Homo sapiens: one gene and its partners. The protein of the gene in region 4 purifies or fractionates together with the protein of the main gene of each other region. This does not show direct contact. Each region holds a gene or a part of one and is shown on either strand. Other genes may lie near its edges. The genes, in order: EIF2AK1, EIF2AK4, CHORDC1, EIF2A and WDR4.

What was found.
Region 1: the proteins of EIF2A (region 4) and EIF2AK1 purify together in Homo sapiens (co-immunoprecipitation; one study listed by IntAct). This does not show direct contact.
Region 2: the proteins of EIF2A (region 4) and EIF2AK4 purify together in Homo sapiens (co-immunoprecipitation; one study listed by IntAct). This does not show direct contact.
Region 3: the proteins of EIF2A (region 4) and CHORDC1 fractionate together in Homo sapiens (co-fractionation; one large-scale study listed by BioGRID). This does not show direct contact.
Region 5: the proteins of EIF2A (region 4) and WDR4 purify together in Homo sapiens (affinity purification with western blotting; one study listed by BioGRID). This does not show direct contact.

Annotation. Positions count from the first base shown.
Region 1 is NC_000007.14:6,052,661-6,056,179, forward strand, and holds part of EIF2AK1 (eukaryotic translation initiation factor 2-alpha kinase 1), read right to left. Parts: intron 2,045-3,519; coding exon 1,886-2,044; intron 1-1,885. UniProt on the Homo sapiens protein: Metabolic-stress sensing protein kinase that phosphorylates the alpha subunit of eukaryotic translation initiation factor 2 (EIF2S1/eIF-2-alpha) in response to various stress conditions.
Region 2 is NC_000015.10:39,937,099-39,940,617, reverse strand, and holds part of EIF2AK4 (eIF-2-alpha kinase GCN2), read right to left. Parts: intron 1,114-3,519; coding exon 1,001-1,113; intron 1-1,000. UniProt on the Homo sapiens protein: Metabolic-stress sensing protein kinase that phosphorylates the alpha subunit of eukaryotic translation initiation factor 2 (EIF2S1/eIF-2-alpha) in response to low amino acid availability.
Region 3 is NC_000011.10:90,213,050-90,216,568, forward strand, and holds part of CHORDC1 (cysteine and histidine-rich domain-containing protein 1), read right to left. Parts: intron 2,182-3,519; coding exon 2,125-2,181; intron 1,127-2,124; coding exon 969-1,126; intron 372-968; exon of another isoform or gene 307-371; intron 1-306. UniProt on the Homo sapiens protein: Regulates centrosome duplication, probably by inhibiting the kinase activity of ROCK2. Proposed to act as co-chaperone for HSP90. May play a role in the regulation of NOD1 via a HSP90 chaperone complex. In vitro, has intrinsic chaperone activity.
Region 4 is NC_000003.12:150,553,286-150,556,804, reverse strand, and holds part of EIF2A (eukaryotic translation initiation factor 2A), read right to left. Parts: intron 1-3,519. UniProt on the Homo sapiens protein: Functions in the early steps of protein synthesis of a small number of specific mRNAs. Acts by directing the binding of methionyl-tRNAi to 40S ribosomal subunits.
Region 5 is NC_000021.9:42,855,527-42,859,045, forward strand, and holds part of WDR4 (tRNA (guanine-N(7)-)-methyltransferase non-catalytic subunit WDR4), read right to left. Parts: intron 255-3,519; coding exon 156-254; intron 1-155. UniProt on the Homo sapiens protein: Non-catalytic component of the METTL1-WDR4 methyltransferase complex required for the formation of N(7)-methylguanine in a subset of RNA species, such as tRNAs, mRNAs and microRNAs (miRNAs).

The DNA of each region.
Region 1 (3,519 bases), on a different chromosome or scaffold from region 4:
CAGAGTCTTACTATGTCACCCAGACTGGAGCACACTGGTTACTCACAGGAGTGATCAAAGCACACTGAAGGCCGAGGCGGGTGGATCACCAGGTCAGGAGTTCGAGACCAGCCTGAACAACATGGTGAAACCCCGTCTCTATTAAAAATACAAAAATTACCCGGGCATGGTGGCACGTGCCTACCCCAGCTACTCGGGAGGGTGAGGCAGGAGAATCACTTGAACCCGGGGGGCGGAGATTGCAGTGAGCGGAAATCGCGCCAATGCACTCCAGCCTGGGCAACAGAGTGAGACTCCATCTCGAGAAAAAAAAAAATTGTGAGCATTATCATAGTATAGATGCAAAAGAACTATATTTCATTTATTCAATTTTATGCAATTATGGGATCCACAGTTATATTTGTAAGGAATTACTCAAAGAAAAATGTAAGCTGAATTGAAGTAGGGAAATCATTAATATTTATTTCACTCCAATTTTTGTATACCAGACGCTTTCCAGACTCACAGCATTAAACAACATATTTTTATTTTGTATTTTTAATTTTTGTGAGTATATGGTAGATGTATATATTTATGGGGGTACATGAGATATTTTGATACAGACATGTGATGTGTAATAATCACATCAGGATAAATGGGGTATCCATCATCTAAAGCATTTATCCCTTCTTTGTGTTACAAACAATCCAATTATATTCTTTTCGTTATTTTTATTTTGTTGAGACTGAGTCTTGCTCTGTCGCCAGGCTGGTGTGCAATGGCGCGATCTCAGCTCACTGCAACCTCCGCCTCCCAGGTTCAAATGATTTTCCAGCCTCAGCCTCCCAAATTACAGCTGGGATTACAGGTGCCCGCCACCATGCCCAGCTAATTTTTGTATTTTTAGTAGAGACAGGGTTTCACCATGTTAGCCAGGATGGTCTCGATCTCTTGACCTCATGATCCACCTGCCTCAGTCTCCCAAAGTGCTGGGATTACAGGCGTGAGCCACCGCGCCCAGCCCATTCTTTTTTTTTTTTTTTTTGAGATGGACTTTAGCTCTTGTTGCCCAGGCTGGAGTGCAGTGGCGTGATCTCGGCTCACTGCAACCTCCGCCACCCGGGTTCAAGCAATTCTCCTACCTCAGCCTCCCAAGTAGCTGAGATTACAGCCATGTGCCATTACGCCTGGGTAGTTTTGCATTTTTTTTTTAATAGAGATGGGATTTCACCATGTTGGTCAGGCTGGTCTCAAACTCCTGACCTCAAGTGATTCACCCACCTTGGCCTCCCAAAGTGCTGGGATTACAGGCATGAGCCACTGCACCTGGCCATCTTTTTTATTATTTTTTAAATGTACAATAAATTATTGTTGACTGTAGTCACTCTGCTGTGCTATCAAATACTAGATCCAATTTATTCTAACTATATTTTTGTACCCATTAACCATCCTCCACTATCCTCCCAGCCTCTGGGAACCATCATTCTACTCTATCTCCATTAGTTCAATTGTTTTAATTTTTACCTCCCATGAATAAGTGAGAACAGCAACACAGTATTTTTACAAGCTTTATTTATTTATTTTTGAGACAGTCTCACTCTTTCACCCAGGCTGGAGTGCAGTGGCGCTATCTCGGCTCACTGCAACCTCCACCTCCCCAGTTCAACTGATTCTCCGCCTCAGCCTCCCGAGTAGCTGGGGTTACAGGTGCCTGCCACAACACCCGGCTAATTTCCATATTTTGAGTAAAGAGGGGGTTTCGTCATGTTAGCCAAACCGATCTCGATCTCCGGACCTCGGGTGATCCGCCCACCTCAGCCTCCCAAAGTGCTGGGATTACAGGCATGAACCACGGAGCCCAGCCTTTACAAGCTTTATTTAGCAAGATTCATTTATTCTTACTTACGCTTAAACACCTGTCTTGAACGAAGTGGGTTTGGTTCATGCACGTGGCTCAAGTGCTCCAGCAAAGAAACCAGCAAGAGTTGGTTTGCAACTGCAAAAGGGAAGGTTGGCTGTTGTAGGGGTTCTTTTAACACCTGGATTTCTGCTGGAACATCAGATTCTAAAAATTAAAAAGGAAAATATTTTTAAATTAATGGTAAACCTGTCTCATAATGACAAAACCGTATATTCTAATTAATGAAACATGAAATATTTAAATGTAAGCAGATAAAAACCAAAAGAATAGTTATGCTGAGTTGGGTTAATCAAGAAAGGCTTTCTGGAAGTGAATTTGGAGCTGAATCCTGGAAGCTGGAGGATCAGCAGAAAGATGCCGTGAGACAGAGGAGAAACAGTTTTCTGATGTGTCCAATAGTACAAATAAATCAATACGCAAGGAAGTGGGACTAGGATGGCTTCCTTCCTTTGAGAAGACAGCCAAGACCCAGGCATAAAGAAAGAAGTTAGGCAGAGGATGGCCGGGCGCGGTTGTTCATGCCTGTAATCCCAGCACTTTGGGAGGCTGAGGCCAGTGGATCACCTGAGGTCAGGAGTTTGAGACCAGCCTGACCAACATGGAGCAACACCATCTCTACTAAAAATACAAAATTAGCCGGGCAGTGGTGGCAGGCGCCTGTAATCCCAGCTACTCAGGAGGCTGAGGCAGGAAAATAGCTTGAACCTGGGAGGCAGAAGTTGCGGTGAGCCGAGATCAACCATTGCATTCCAGCCTTGGCAACAAGAGCGAAACTCCGTCTCAAAAAAAAAAAAAAAAAAAAAGAAGTTGGGCAGATGACAGAGGGAAAGATAGGAAAAATGGAAACTTTTCTCGATGAGCGTGTGCTACTTATCTACATGTACAATCTCCTTCAATGCTCAAAAAATAATATAAGGTAAGTGTTCATCCTCATTTTACAGATGAAAACACTGATCTCAGAGAGGCTGAGGAACCAGTGAACAAGGCAGATCAGACTGACTCCCGAACCCCATCCTCTTTGCACTGTATGAGACCATGCAGACAGACGAGTTGGCACTAAGGCTGAAGGTCGTTAAGTTCTCACTTACTGTTTATTTAAGACATGACTAAACAGGTAAAAAAAAAAAAAAAAAAACCTAGCTGGGCACAGTGGCTCATGCCTGTAATCCCAGCACTTTGAGAGGCCGAGGCAGGCAGATCACCTAAGGTCAGGAGTTCGAGACCAGCCTGGCCAACATGGAGAAACCCTGTCTCTACGAAAAAACAAAATTAGCCAGGCGTGGTGGCGCATGCCTGTAATCAATCCTAGCCACTCAGGAGGCTGAGGCAGGAGAATCCCTTAAACCCAGGAGGCAGAGGTTGAGATGAGCTGAGATCGTGCCATTGCACTCCAGCCTGGGCAACAAAGTGAAACTCTGTCTCAAAAAAAAAAAAAAAAAAAAAAAAAACTAGCTGGGTGTGGTGGCTCACATCTGTAATTCCAGCACTTAGAGAGGCCGAGGCAAGCAGATCACCTGAGGTCAGGAGCTCAGGACCAGCCTGGCCAACACGGTGAAACACCGTCTCTACTAAAAATACAAAAATTAGGTGAGCGTGGTGGTGTGCACCTGTGATCCCAG
Region 2 (3,519 bases), on a different chromosome or scaffold from region 4:
TTAACGTTTCGTTAATTAATATTTTTATAGTATGTATAGTATACCTACTATAATACTCTCAGGACAGTTTTGGGGGCCAAGAATGGTTACTGACTTCAAGGAGCTCAATTTTGACTTATCTGTCTTTTCATATCCTCCCTATCACTTCTTAGGATAATAAATTCCATAAATTTACCACCCACTGTGTAAAGCAGAGTTTCCTTTTACTTGTCCCTTTCCATCTCAAAAACCTTCACTGGTTCCCCATACAATAATTTCAAACTACTTAACGCCATCCAGGCCAACCTGCCTTTCCATGTGGGATGGGTGGGGAAAGATTACACCAAATAGACATGCTTAAGTGCTGATGGCTAACACTTTGGCTCTAACTAGTTTTTCTCAACCAGAGGTGACATCACCTTCAGAGGGAGTCTGGAAATATGTAGGTTATTTGGTTGTTTCAATGCCTGGAGGACACTCGTGGCATTGGTAGGTGGGGGCCAGGGATGCTAAACGTACTGCAGTGCACAGCACAGCCCTGCACAATGGACACTCGCCAGAGTGCCCCATTGAGAGGCAGGACAGATCCAAATACTCTCCCTCACTCTAGGCAGTGAAAGGTCATCTGAGGCACAGACTTGCTGAATTTCTAATACCAGCCACACTCTAACTATGCAAGGGCTTTCAACAGTCACCATGCCTTTATTGTTTTCTTCCAAATTTTCCTCTTCCTAACTTATGAAGAAATAAATAAACAAAAGTTAACACATCAGAGGAAGCAAAATAGTCACTAGGCAAATATAAGTATCTGTAGTGACAATTCTATAACTATGAACAGGCTTAAAATGAGACAGGTTTCATGAAAACATCTATTGCTGATGTAGTTTTGTTGAAATAGAGGAAATGAAATTTTATGTGGAATGGGAGCAGGAAGGAGAAAATACTACGAATTTCAATCTGTTTCTATGTTGTCAAAACAGAAAACTGAAACCACGTCAAAGCTATTTATAAATGTACTCACACATCTGGATAGGTAGGTGGGCATTTAACCCTCAAATCCACTTTTACATATACTTCTTCACCAGTTAGGCCTTGAGGGTACAAAACTAAATTGATTTCAGGGGGCTCTTTGACCTAAAAGAGGAAAAACAAAAAAAATTTTTTTCAAAGCTGTAGAGCCAATCATTAATGATTAAGATAATGATCATTTTAGATCAAAAGTTCTACTTTAAAAATATTTGTAATTATATTTTAAATAGATAATCTGGCATACTTTCCAAAAGCATGATTTAAAAACAAAACCTAAGCCAGTGAAAATGCACTTTCCTTTTTTAAGTTATCTAAGGAATGAACCAAAATGTTCCACTCAGCTTCCATTCGTTCAGATGTTACTGAGTTATTATGCCTGGGTGCTCTCCTGGAAGCTGGGAGTGCAGGGGTAAATTTAGACAGACACAGTCCCAACCAGCTGATACAAACTAGAAGACGAGTGATTTCAAATAGTGATGAGTGCTGTAAAGAAAACAAAGCAGAGTAGAGGGACATAGTGGTGGGCGAGGAGAAGGTATCTGGACAGGTAGGTCAGTGAAGGACTCTGCGAGCAGGGGAGATTTGAATTGAGATCTGAATACTGAGATATTAACAAATGAAAACCCTTGACAAGGAGAGAATTGCATATGTTTTCAATCAACTACTTTTCACCAAATCGCAAAATACCCTTGTTCTTCAATTTAGATACACTTTTTCCAAAGTGGATTTGAAGTAGTTCATATTATATGTATATAATGAACAAGGGGAGTCTGAGAGAAAAAACAATGGCTGAGCGCTCCCATGGTCCAGGCACCTTACCAACTTTGCAAGGCAGGTGTCATCTCCATTTTACAGATACAGAAGCTCAGGCTCAGGGAGTTTTACATTCTTGCCTACAGATACACAGGGACAGAGCTGGGATTCAAACCCAGCCTTAACTCCAAACCCTGTCTCCTCCCATAAGCCACTCTTTTATTATGCCATCCTAAGTTGCTGGGATTGAGCCTTGATTTTTTTCTCTGAATGTCCTGGCAGGCAGGGCAAAAAGAGAAACGTGGTATCATCAGAAAAGAGAAAGCCTAAAAATTATTTTAGGGAAGCAAAGTACTTATAATACTAAATTCTAACAGAAATTTATAACGTGAACCTTACAAGGAGTACCATATAATAAACACTGTACTCTTCTACTATGTGTACAAAATTTGTAAGATCAGTTCTTATATGGCTTTATAATAATCCTTGATAAATGTGTGGGTCCTTCCATAAAGCATAATTCTGCGAATGTGGTCTGGGGAAGGGTTAAGCACTCTTTGGTCCACAGGTCTTTCATCCACTCATTCACCCATCACACATCCATCACCCATATTTGCTAAGCACTGACTCTGTGTCAGGCACTGTGCTTAGTCCACGGAGGTGAGAACACAGATATGGTTCCAGCTCTCATGGAACTTCAGTCTGGTGGGGGAAAACAAACATAATAAACACATAAGTACAAGCTTAGAGAGTGCCGTTGAAGAGATGACGTGGTGCTCTCCTTAACAAACGACTTGGGGTGTGAGGGTATATACTTAAATGTGGTTATCAAAGAAGAACTATCTGAGGATGTAGCATTGAAGCTGAGACAAGCCAAGAGACCAAGCATTCCAGGCAAGGAAAAAAAGAGACTTGAAATACATTTGAGAATTATTTCATTCAGTAACAATTTTTGAAAGTTTTTTGTTTGTTTTACCAGGCACTGGGCTTGTAGGAATGGCATTTCAAATGAGTGGAAGACACTGAAAAATTCAATTGCCTATATTTGTCTAGCTGCCTAGCTGGAGGAGGAGGGATGCACACGGGGAGGTGGCCTAGGCCCGTACTTTGATGGAACGAAGAACTTAAAAAAAAAAACCTACTTATATCTTTATTTGATGAAAATTTAAAAACGAAGTCATGAACAAGTTAAAAGTAAACTTTGACGAATTTGGTTTTTAGTAACATTGGAACAGAGGGGGAAAAAAAACCCACAGGGACCATAAAAGAAAAAAAAGGTCATTTTGACTCTATCAACATTTTTTAAATCACATAAATTACGTAAATAAATGCATATAATTAGGAGAAAAATATATGCATTATATGACCCAAAATGCTAGTTTTCTTAAGATATTTAGCTCTTACAAATAAACAAGAAAATGGACCACAGAGTAGAAAAATAAACCAGAGTATGAGCAGTTCACAGAAAAAGAAAAATCAATGGTTTGTAAACAAAGGTGTTCTAGATAATTTATAAATAAATAAAAATTAAAATGAGATATGTTTCATTTATGTGGCAAAGATGAAAAAGTCTAACATATATAGTATTGTTGAAGATAAAGGAAAACAAACACCACCATACACTACTGGGGGATCCAGGGATTGAAGCAAGTTTTTTGGAGGGATGTTTCCAAAAGCTATCAAATTATAAATGAGCAGACCTTTTGCTGCTGTGGAAAGCTAGCCAAAATAAGTTAGTAATTTGTAACTATCTATAAA
Region 3 (3,519 bases), on a different chromosome or scaffold from region 4:
TCCCAATTATTTTTCTAACTGCTAAACTGGCCAAAGCATTCAATGGTCTCCTCTAACTATGAAGATGGAGAGAGAATAAAATCATCCTGAGTAGTTTCCTTAGCAATAATCTGTACTCAGAGTGCTAATGAACAAATAAACATCTAAAGTCTCTTAGGGTTCTTATCTTGGTTCTATATTATTCAATACTCTATAAATTTATTTAAGTAGGATCAAAGGAGAATAAAGGGAAAATCATGAGTTCATAGCATGAATAAAAATTACAATAAGTGCCTACTTGCAGCCAAAAAAAAAAAAAAAAATCACCTTTTTTTAAGTCCTGTAGTTTGCTTCTAAAACAATTTAGTACTCAAGTGTAGCACGAAGAAGACCTGGTTCAACAAAGGTACTCAATATACATGTGTGGGAATACAGAGTCTGGTTATCAGAAGGCAAGTATGAAGAATCTGTACAACTCTATTGCACAATGAGCAAACGCTTTTTTAAGACTACTTTCACAAATATGTCATCTAAATCAAATGCATTAAAAATTGACCAGTAGTAATGAGATTAACGGTAGTTTTCAGGCATCTGAAAGTAAAGATGGATGATTAGGCCTCTGCATTATTTTCTACTTCAAACTCATGCCATGAAAAGGAAAACTGCTTCAAAGAATTTTACCATGCCACAGTGAAAAAGATGCACTCTAAGGCACAAGAAAAATGTGACTTCCCTACCCTGATGATACATGTCCCTGTAATTATGACAGTACAATATGCAAATCTGTTATGTAGTTATATTGTGTACATGCTCTCAAGTTGAAGAGAAATAAAAATTTAAGGCAGATTTAAGGGAGAAACCAAATGGTTCAAAGCTTGGTGGCCTACATAGTAGCTACAAATGGTATCATGCTAAATCATAAAGGAAAGTACCATGCACAAGTGCTACTATTCAAGTGTGACAAAAATATGTAACTGTATAAAGTATACCTTGGTCTTTTTATTGCTTCTACTGGCTTAGGGGCTTGAATGATGTGTTCCTGAAATTTGGGTTTTAATTCACATAGCTCCTTCTTCTCAGTAGTCTTGACTTCAGGTTTGACTGGCTCAGGTGGCTTCTCACTATTATGTCTACCTTTTGTACAGCCCTGTTAGTGAAAGATAATTCATTAAGAGCTATCTATTTTACATTTCATGATAGAAATATTATCTTTTCAGTTCTTTATTGATAGTGATTCTATTTCATGTTTTCTCCAGTTTCAATACATTGATTTTAAGAAATTAAAAACAGAACTCCAAATTTGCCATATTTGCTGAATCTCTGAATGACGGCTTTTTTAAAAAGTCTTTGAATTACACTTCATAAACATCTACTTATTCTATTAAAAATATGGCATAAACCTCTTGTTTACAGAAGAATTCTGGAGAATCTCACAAAGAACTGTAAAAAATAGTTATACAGAAAAATCTGTTACTCGAAAGGCCTCAATTTGAGACCTAGTTCTCAACATACTTATTAGTTATATGACCTTAAGCAAGATAATCTTTTTAAACCTCCATCTCCTCATTTGTAAAATGGAGGTAATGTCAGGTAAGATATTTTCTGAGAGAGTTAAATAATAAAATGCCTGGCACATTTGGCAGGTGATAACATTCAACAAACGTTAGCTACTTTTCTACTACATTCTACTGAATTATACATACTCTTTAACACCTCTGAAATGATACAATCAATAGCATTATCAGTTTGTTAGTAGCTTTAGTTTTCTTAGTGGTATATAAAGTGGTTTTATATAAAAGTGGTATGTAAAATATTTCAACAGCATCTTAGATAAAACTTTATCGTTCCTAACTGAAAAGGCTTTAAATTGTTGCTTACCACTTTCTCCTTGATGTTCTTTCAACATAACAGAAAGAACAAACCTAAAATGATAAGCAGGTAACTGATACCTTAAAACGTTAATTTCCAAAACAGATTCTTTATTTTACAAGCTGTGGAAGGGAGATGAGCTGCTTTTTGAAAGGTGTTATCTGCAAGTTGATGAAGACCAATCAATCTATATCAGAAATCAGACTCCTCAAATCTGAAGCTTTCTATAACATGTATTTTTAGGAAGATAATCTAGAAAAAATAATTAGTACTTACTACAATGCTTAAGAAATCAGAAAAATCAGTTGTTCTTCTCTTACAGCAAGACCAACCCTATGAAAAACAAGAGAAGGAAACTAAAAACTCTATTTGCATGAGAAACACGACCCACTAAAACACTCTACTTGCACTTATCTACTTGAATCCTGCAGTAACTTGCGTATAGAGTGCAAAATTTCAGTGTTGCATATAATTCACCTAATCAAGTAAAATGAATATTAATCTTTGATTTTTAAAAAGCCAATTAACCAATGTTAAAGTGATTTGTGCTATGCCCTATCATCAAGGGAAGCACCTTTATAAAACAAAAACTGTTTCTCTTTTCAACAATCGTGTCTGCTTTTTTTTTAGAAGAAAAACATGTTATAATTCCTAAAACTATCATATTTAAAGAATATTCAAAATAAGTATAGGTATTTTACTTTTAAAATCTATTAAGTTAAAGATAGTAACTATCTTTAGTTAATTTTAATTTCACAATAAGCATTCTATTTTCAGAACAACAAAGATTAATTAACACAGCAGCTAAAGCACTATTAAGCCTTTGAAGGTGATCTTTTCAGTGAGAAGCATAAAGACAGAGAAACTATTAGTATTTGTGATTTTTGAACAAACTATCAAGTAGTTTACCAAAAAATGGCTTTAATAATTATCTCTAAATTCCAATGTTTATAGAGCATAGGGAAACAAAAATGCAAAATCTCAAAACTTGGAACTTCAGATTAAGATTTGGGACTAAATTCAGATTAAGATGCAACTTTGCACACATCCGCCTGGACCTCGCTGATTTTCAAAAGACTGCATAAAAATATGGTAGTGATTTTTCTCATTATATGCACCTGTAGGTTCTTTTTCTTTAAAGGTAATTTCAAATATCCTATAATTCAAATTTTCCTTTAATTTGAAATTTAATTATCTTTTACTCCGAATTGAGATGTAGATCAATTACTACAACCTTAAATATAGGGTTTAAATAGCATCAATAATATAGTCAACAGAAAAGTTATTCTATAAGAGAAAAAGTTTTACTGTCTTAATCATGTACTAAATTATGTCAGATACTGTGATACACACATGTAAAATACAATACAGGCCAGCTGTTCCCAAATGCCAATCTGGATTCTATGCTAGTCTTCAGTACAATGAGAAAAGGAAAGATAAATTTAAGTTATGTGAATATAAGGTTGCTAGTTGTCTTTTTTCAGCAAGATTGTCCTTTTCTCTGAATATGCCCCTTCTAATATTAAAATAGTATTTCTTTTGTCAATGCAATGTTTAACTTCTTACTTGGTCAACTAGTATCCCTGTATTGATGTATACGCATTTTGTCTGAAATCTTCTGGACTGTGAAATCCAATAATCTTGGAAAGTCTAGGACTTTAAGAAATGGTT
Region 4 (3,519 bases):
TACAGAATCCAGAATTCGATTATTTTCTTGGTCTTGGCAATTGGGAAATTTTGCCTCTTTCCTTCTGGTATAATTTTTTGAATGAAAAATTTCAAACATACACAAAAAATAGAGAAAAAGTATGATAATCCACCTATGCACTCATCATCAAGCTTAAGTAACTATTAACTCAGAGCCAATTTTATCTATTCCCCACTTTTATCTTTCATGCCACAACATTCCAACGCAAAAACTAGATGTCATTATCATATTGCTCTATACTTGATTATGCATCTCTAACCAGTGAGTATATTTTTTTAAAAACATAATCACCACCATGCCACTTCATCTCACAAAATTAACTTCTTAATATCATTTAATACCCAATACTTGGATTGGATATCTGGGTTTTTTAACAGCTCCCCAGGTCATTCTATTGTGCAGCCACATTTGAGAACTACTCATGTAAAAGACTGACTAAATTCTGAGTTTGAAGTTTTTTTAACTTTCGTAGAAGATATGTACAGCACAGTTCCTACTGTATAATAACTCACCAGGAGACACATAAATATCTCTCTGTTCTACTCTTAGTGATACTGAGATTGTACTGGATTCAGTCATGTGCCTCCTTGTATCTACCTAACTCTTCCTGCTGCCACGCCTCAACTATTCAATGAAGAGACCTCATCTCCTAACGCCACTGGTTGTCTTTGAATCTGCAGAGTTAAGGGCCATACTTCCACATGGCTTCCACCATGCACTGCGGCAGCACATGGAGGAGCTCTGGCACTCAGATTCAACCCAAACAGGCTAAGAGGCTGTAGTAAACTTCTTACCCTGTCTCCACACAACAGACTGTTCTGAAGTACAAATGTTCCATACAGCCTTTCTGGAGACAAAAATTTTGCACACATGACCAAGCAAGTTGGCTATATTTTGTGGATTTGTGGTCACCTCAGTATATCCCATCATACTTGCTTTAACTCCTTCCCTGTCTCATTTCCCTTTCTCCCCTACTCCTGCAGCCTTGGGACTGCATACCCTAATGAAGTGTAGCACATAACTTTGCCATAGTTTTTTTTTTGTTTTTTGTTTTTTAAATAGATATGGGGTTTTGCCATACTGCCCAGGCTCATCCTGAACTCCTGGGCTCAAGTGATCCACCCACCTTGGCCTCCCAAAGCGCTGGGATTACAGGCATGAGCCACCGCGCCCAGCCAGACTGGGTTTTCTAGAGTAGTGCTTCTCAAACATTAATGTGCATACATGGCCGGGTGTGGTGGCTCACACCTGTAATCCCAGCACTTTGGGAGGCCAAGGAGGGTGAATCACCTGAGGTCAGAAGTTCGAGACCAGCCTGGCCAACATGGTGAAACCACGTCTCTACTAAAAATAAAAAAATTTAGCCAGGTGTGGTAGCAGGTGCCTATAATCCCAGCTACTTGGGAGGCTGAGGCAGGAGAATCGCTTGAACCCAGGAAGCAGAGGTTGCAGTGAGCCGAGATTGTACCATTGCACTCCAGCCTGGGCAACAAGAGTGAAACTCCATCTCAAAAAAAATAAATAAATAAGTAAATAAATAAATAATGTGCATACAGGCCAGGCATGGTGGCTGAGGCCTGTAATCCCAGCACTTTGGGAGGCCAAGGCGGTTGGATCTCTTGAGCCCAGGAGTTGGAGAGCAGCCTGGGCAACATAGTGAGACCCCCATCTCTACAAAACATACAAAAATTAGCCAGGCATGGTGGCATGCGCCTATAGTCCCAGCTACTTGGGATACTGAGGCAGGAGTATTGTTTGAGCCTGGGAGATTGAGGCTACAGTGGGCCATGATTACACCACTCCATTCTAGCCTGGGCAGCAGAGCAAGACTCTGGAAAAAAAAAAGTGCATATAAATCATCTGAAGATCTAGCTAAAATACAGATTCTGATTCAGTAAGTTGGGTAGGGCCTGAGATGCATTTCTGTACTGGCTCAGGAGTGATGCCAATATAGTTGGTCTTGGTTGGGCCCATGCTTCCTGTAGCAAGGTTCTAGAGAACTGGGCCTAATAAAAATTGGTCAGTAGAGTCAGATGACAACAGCCTGATTATAAAGTTCCCCATTAACAGTCATCAAACAGTTCAGCTAAAGGTTTCAGCATCTTTTGATGATCATCTGCCTAGATCAGTGGTTCTTAAAGGGGGGTCCCCAGATTTGCAGCATCAGTATCACTGGGGAATTTGTTAAAAATGCAAATTATTGGGCCCTACCGCTGATCTAATGAATCCGAACATTTGGAAAGAGAGCTGCAATCTGGATTTTAACGAGCTTTTCAGATGATTCTGATGCTTGGTAAAGTTTGAGAACCAGTGGCCTAGATCCATTTCTTGAGGATTACAAAATGGTAATTGTCTGATCCAGCATCCATTCTCCATTTATTAACTGGAATTCGTCTATAAAATTCTTTTTCTCATCAACCACTTGGTTACTCTGAGAAACAGTTTGTATAAGAAAGGCAAGATAAATGCTTGACTCCTTCCCTTTATTTATCAATTTTCAAAGTAATGAGTGAGGACTCCATCAACCACCAATGCTGACCAGTTAGGTTTAAACGGAGGGGGGATTTTTCGGGGGAGCATTTATATACTTGACATGCTTTATCTTTCTATTCATAATTCTTAATGTTCCCATCTTAGGTTGGTGTGAATCTCTTCAAGTTGCTTCCTACGACCCTTTAACAAAATCTCATTAGTCTTTTATAGCTTTGCTTTCTGGCACAAAAGTTGCTACCTCAACTTGTACATTTTCTGTCCCAGACCTAGAGTTGACCACTTCTCCAAGGAAGTGGTTCCTTTTAGTGAAGAATTGTATTTAGAGATCACAATCTGTGAGGATGGGGTATTCACTGCTACTGTGTTATCACTGCTTCCAGGCCTTTTCATTGGCCAGAACTAGGAAATGCAAATGTTTTATGAAAGGAAATCATGAGTTCATACTGATATAGGCAAGTCTATCTTTTCACTCTAATGCTGAAAAATCTTGGTGCCTAACAACATTAATACAATTAATTTACTCTATCCTATAGTAGATTCAAATGACAATATCAACTTTCAGTTAAAAAGAAAACTATTAGGCCAGGCATGGTGGCTCACGTCTGTAATCCCAGCACTTTGGGAGGATGAGACAGGTGGATCACCTGAGGTCAGGAGTTTGAGACTAGCCTGGCCAACACGGTGAAACTCTGTCACTACTACAAATACAAAAAAATTAGCCAGGCATGGTGGCAGGCACCTGTAATCCCACCTACTTGGGAGGCTGAGGCAGGAGAATCGCTTGAACCTGGGGGGCAGAGGTTGCATTAAGCCGAGATTGCACCACTGCACTCTAGCCTGGGCAACAAGGGCAAAACTCAGTCTCAAAAAAAAAGAATTTTGCAGGTCTTCACATGGTTATGCCACCAACCTGATATAAAGCTAGAATCACTTATTTTAGTTTCCCAATTTTTTTTTTTTTTTTTTTTGAGACGGAGTCTCATCTTTTTGCCCAGGCTGGAGTGC
Region 5 (3,519 bases), on a different chromosome or scaffold from region 4:
CTTCAGAATTTGAAATACGAGATTTCCCTCACACAGGAGGAAGTCTGGCATTGAGAGCAAACGTTTCCAACGGCGAAGTGACTTTTCCACTCAAGTCAGGCGACTGCCGGTGTCTACAAGCACTCAGTCGCCCAGGAGTGAACAGAAGCAGCTACCTGGGGGGCCTGGGGGTCCACCAGCTCCTGCAGACTGGCCAGGTGACAGCAGTGCAGCTGGCGGCCGCTCCTGTACTCCCAGAGCCTCAGGGTGCCGTCCTGCACAAACCAAACACACAGGTTAGCACATGGTTGTGGGGCTTCCGTCAGGTAGGGTGACAGAGAGGACAGCTGCGTGTGGTCGGGGTTCCACTCCGTGACAGCCATGCCACCCACCCTCAGGAATTAAAGGCTCTCTGCTCTGACTGTGTAAATCGCTCATGCAAATCATCAAGGACAACGGTGGGGAACGGAAGGTGACCGATTCCCTGTTTCTCGAGTGCCAATATGCCCAGGCAGATGACAAAGCCAATGAGGCAGATCCTAGCAAAATAAGCCAAGGCCGCTAGATGGCCAGGTTGTCATCCGCCAGGAGGCCAGACCACATCTGCTGTGCCCGGGCCGGGCATAGACACGGGCATGCACACAGGTCTGCGCAGACACTTCAGCAATCATGCATTCCCACGGGGAGACACGTGTGGGCTCATGAGCTCGTGGCCACTGCTCCACTTCACTAAGAATGACAGGAAGGACATGGCCATCAGCAACCGTCCCACGACAACTGGTACAACCCTTCAGGAAGCCGACACAGGAACCAAGAGGCTCCACGCTCTAAAACCATCATCAATGGAAAAAAGCGTTTCTCTTTTTTTTCTTGGTTTTATCTGTTGTTATTTTTTTGTTGTTTAATTGAAATGGGGTCTATTCCACACTGCCCACTGCACTGCAGTGGCTATTCACAGGCTTGCTCCTGGCTCACTGCAGCCTCTGACTCCCAGGCCCAGGCAATCCTCCCGCCTCAGCCTCCGAGTAGCTGGGACTACAGGCATGAGCCACCATACCTGGCTTAAAAAAAATTCATTACAGCACTAATTCAGTGGAGAGAAATAAATCAATACTCATTAAATCTAATGAGAGAGTGTCTGTGCACTATTTGTAAGTATTTTTAAATGACTAAATGAAAAAGATGAAAAGTAAATACCCCAAACAGCTAACAGTAGATGCATATCCTCTGGGTGCCGAGGTAAGAGTGGATGTATGAATGCACACACACACGCATGCACATACACACGCACACACACACACCTTTCTACAAATGTGGCAGATAAACATGGAGACCAACACACACATCTACAGGCATTTCACTCACCCCCAAACCTCTCTACGAAGACAAGAAAAAGATGTTTAATAACCATGAACCCACTAAGACAAAGACAACAGGCAAGAAGAGAAGGCAGCCGCGGAGAGACAGCAAGGAAACCTGGGGGCTGGAGGCCAGGGAACAAATGCACCAGCCACAGAGAAGCCCGAGAGGTGCCAGGACCTGCCAAAGACCAAACCGGGCCAGGCAGCCTGAAGACCAAGGTGGTGAGGGGAGCTGTCAAATGTCTTTACAAAGAGAAACGGGACCTCCCTGATGCATCCTCAGCCCCAAACTCCAGGCCAGCAGAAGGCTCTGGGGAAACGGAGCCGAGGGGCCCCTGTCTCGGGGATGCCAAATACTCACTGAGAAGAGAGTCACCTAGCCCCTTCGCACTCACCTCCCAGAGCCCCAGGGGACAGACCTGGGCAAGAGTGAAGGCCGGGACACTGACCACCCAGAAGAGACCGACTGACCCACACGTTCTACGGAGTCCACAGGCAAGGGGCTGCTGCCCACAGACACCTGCTCTGAAGCCCCTCGGGCCCCACCCTGGGTGCACACACCCAGCCTCTGAGGCCGGCTGGTGCTGACTCCCATCACACACAGGCAGATGGCATCGCCAGACATCCGAGGAAAACCTCCAATGAGAAAGGCAGACAACACACTCCAGAGAAGGCAATCAAACACAAGGCCAGGAAGAAATTGAAGAAAGAAAAGTCCACGCTCATCTCAGTGAGATAAGAGACACGTGCACTATCCGAGAATGGGTGGCTGCAAAAAAGAACGTGCCGAGGGCAAGAAAGAACTAAAGATTCAAAATAATCCTAATAAAACTCAAGTCTCCACAGAAGGCTGGAAAGTAAAGTTGAGGCAATCTCCCAAGAAGTAAGACTATTCCTAAAGGAGTAGAAATACGAGATTGAACAGGAAAGAAAAAAAAACAGAGAATTATGGCCCAGCATGGTGGCTCTCGCCTATAATCCCAGTGGGCGGAAGTGGGTGGATCGCTTGAGGTCAAAAGTTTGAGACCAGCCTGGCCAAGCTGGCAAAACCCCATCACTACAAAAGTATAAAAAATTAGCGGGGCATGGTGGTGTGTGCCTGTAATACTAGCTACTCGGGAGGCCTGAGGTGGGAGGATTGCTTGAGCCCGGGAGGCAGAGGCTGCAGTGAACCGAGATCACGCCACTGCACTCCAGACTGGGAGACAGAGCAAGACTCTGTCTCAAAAAAAATAAGAATCAGAGCATTAAAGTGGTTCAACTAACACAAGCTTTAGAAAAAGTGAGCAAGAGGCAGGGGTAGAGAACAGAAGGTAATCATGTAAGAAAATGCCCCAGGTCGGAGGACACTGAAAATCACTGGCTGTGTGGCCAACTCCCCTCTGGGGCCCACCAAGTCACCTCAGTGGCTTTCACATCGCACACTGGAGCAGAGAAAGTCCTCCAGGCAGAAGGAGAGCCCAGCTGTCACCCCACGGACCCACGGCAGACAGCTGCAGGTTTCTACAGGAAGCGCGCGGGAAAACCCACAGGAGCAACCAGCTGGAGAGCACACTGTGCAAGGCCTCCCAAGCTCCGAGGGAAACCGTTTCAACCAGGACTTCTACGCCAAACTAACAACCAGGCCTCAAAGGAGATTAAAGGTATTTCCAGAAAAGCAAAGTCAGAAAACACTGACCCTCCTCGCGCCTTTTGGCAGCTACCAGATGACGTGTTCCACTCAAACAAAGCAGTAAGCCATGAGGGACAGATGGGGCCTGGGGAGGCTTCTCTGCCCGTGGAAGATTTTCCTCATATTATGAAAAAGACTGGAAGGTGCACAACAAACCGCTGACGAAGCCTGACCCTGACCCTGACCCTCTGGAGATTATGGCCACACTTTTCTTCTTCTCTCAGGTCGCGTGGCTGTGTGTTAATTTGAAGAGCAGGAACAGGAGGCTGTGAATGAAGCCCAATCAGAGAAGAAACATAGAAGCGGCCAGAAGGTCCATCAGCCATCCTGCCACACCACACAAAGGACCAACACAGACAACACAGGGAAGGACAGCGAAGAGGAAGGTGGTGGTGTGCGGGCAACAATTCCGCAAGAGGACAGAATCAGACCCTGTGAGGAATCCAAGGCCCTCACTTTGGCAAAATCACTAACAATCCTTCTAACACATTCCTTAGAGAAAACACG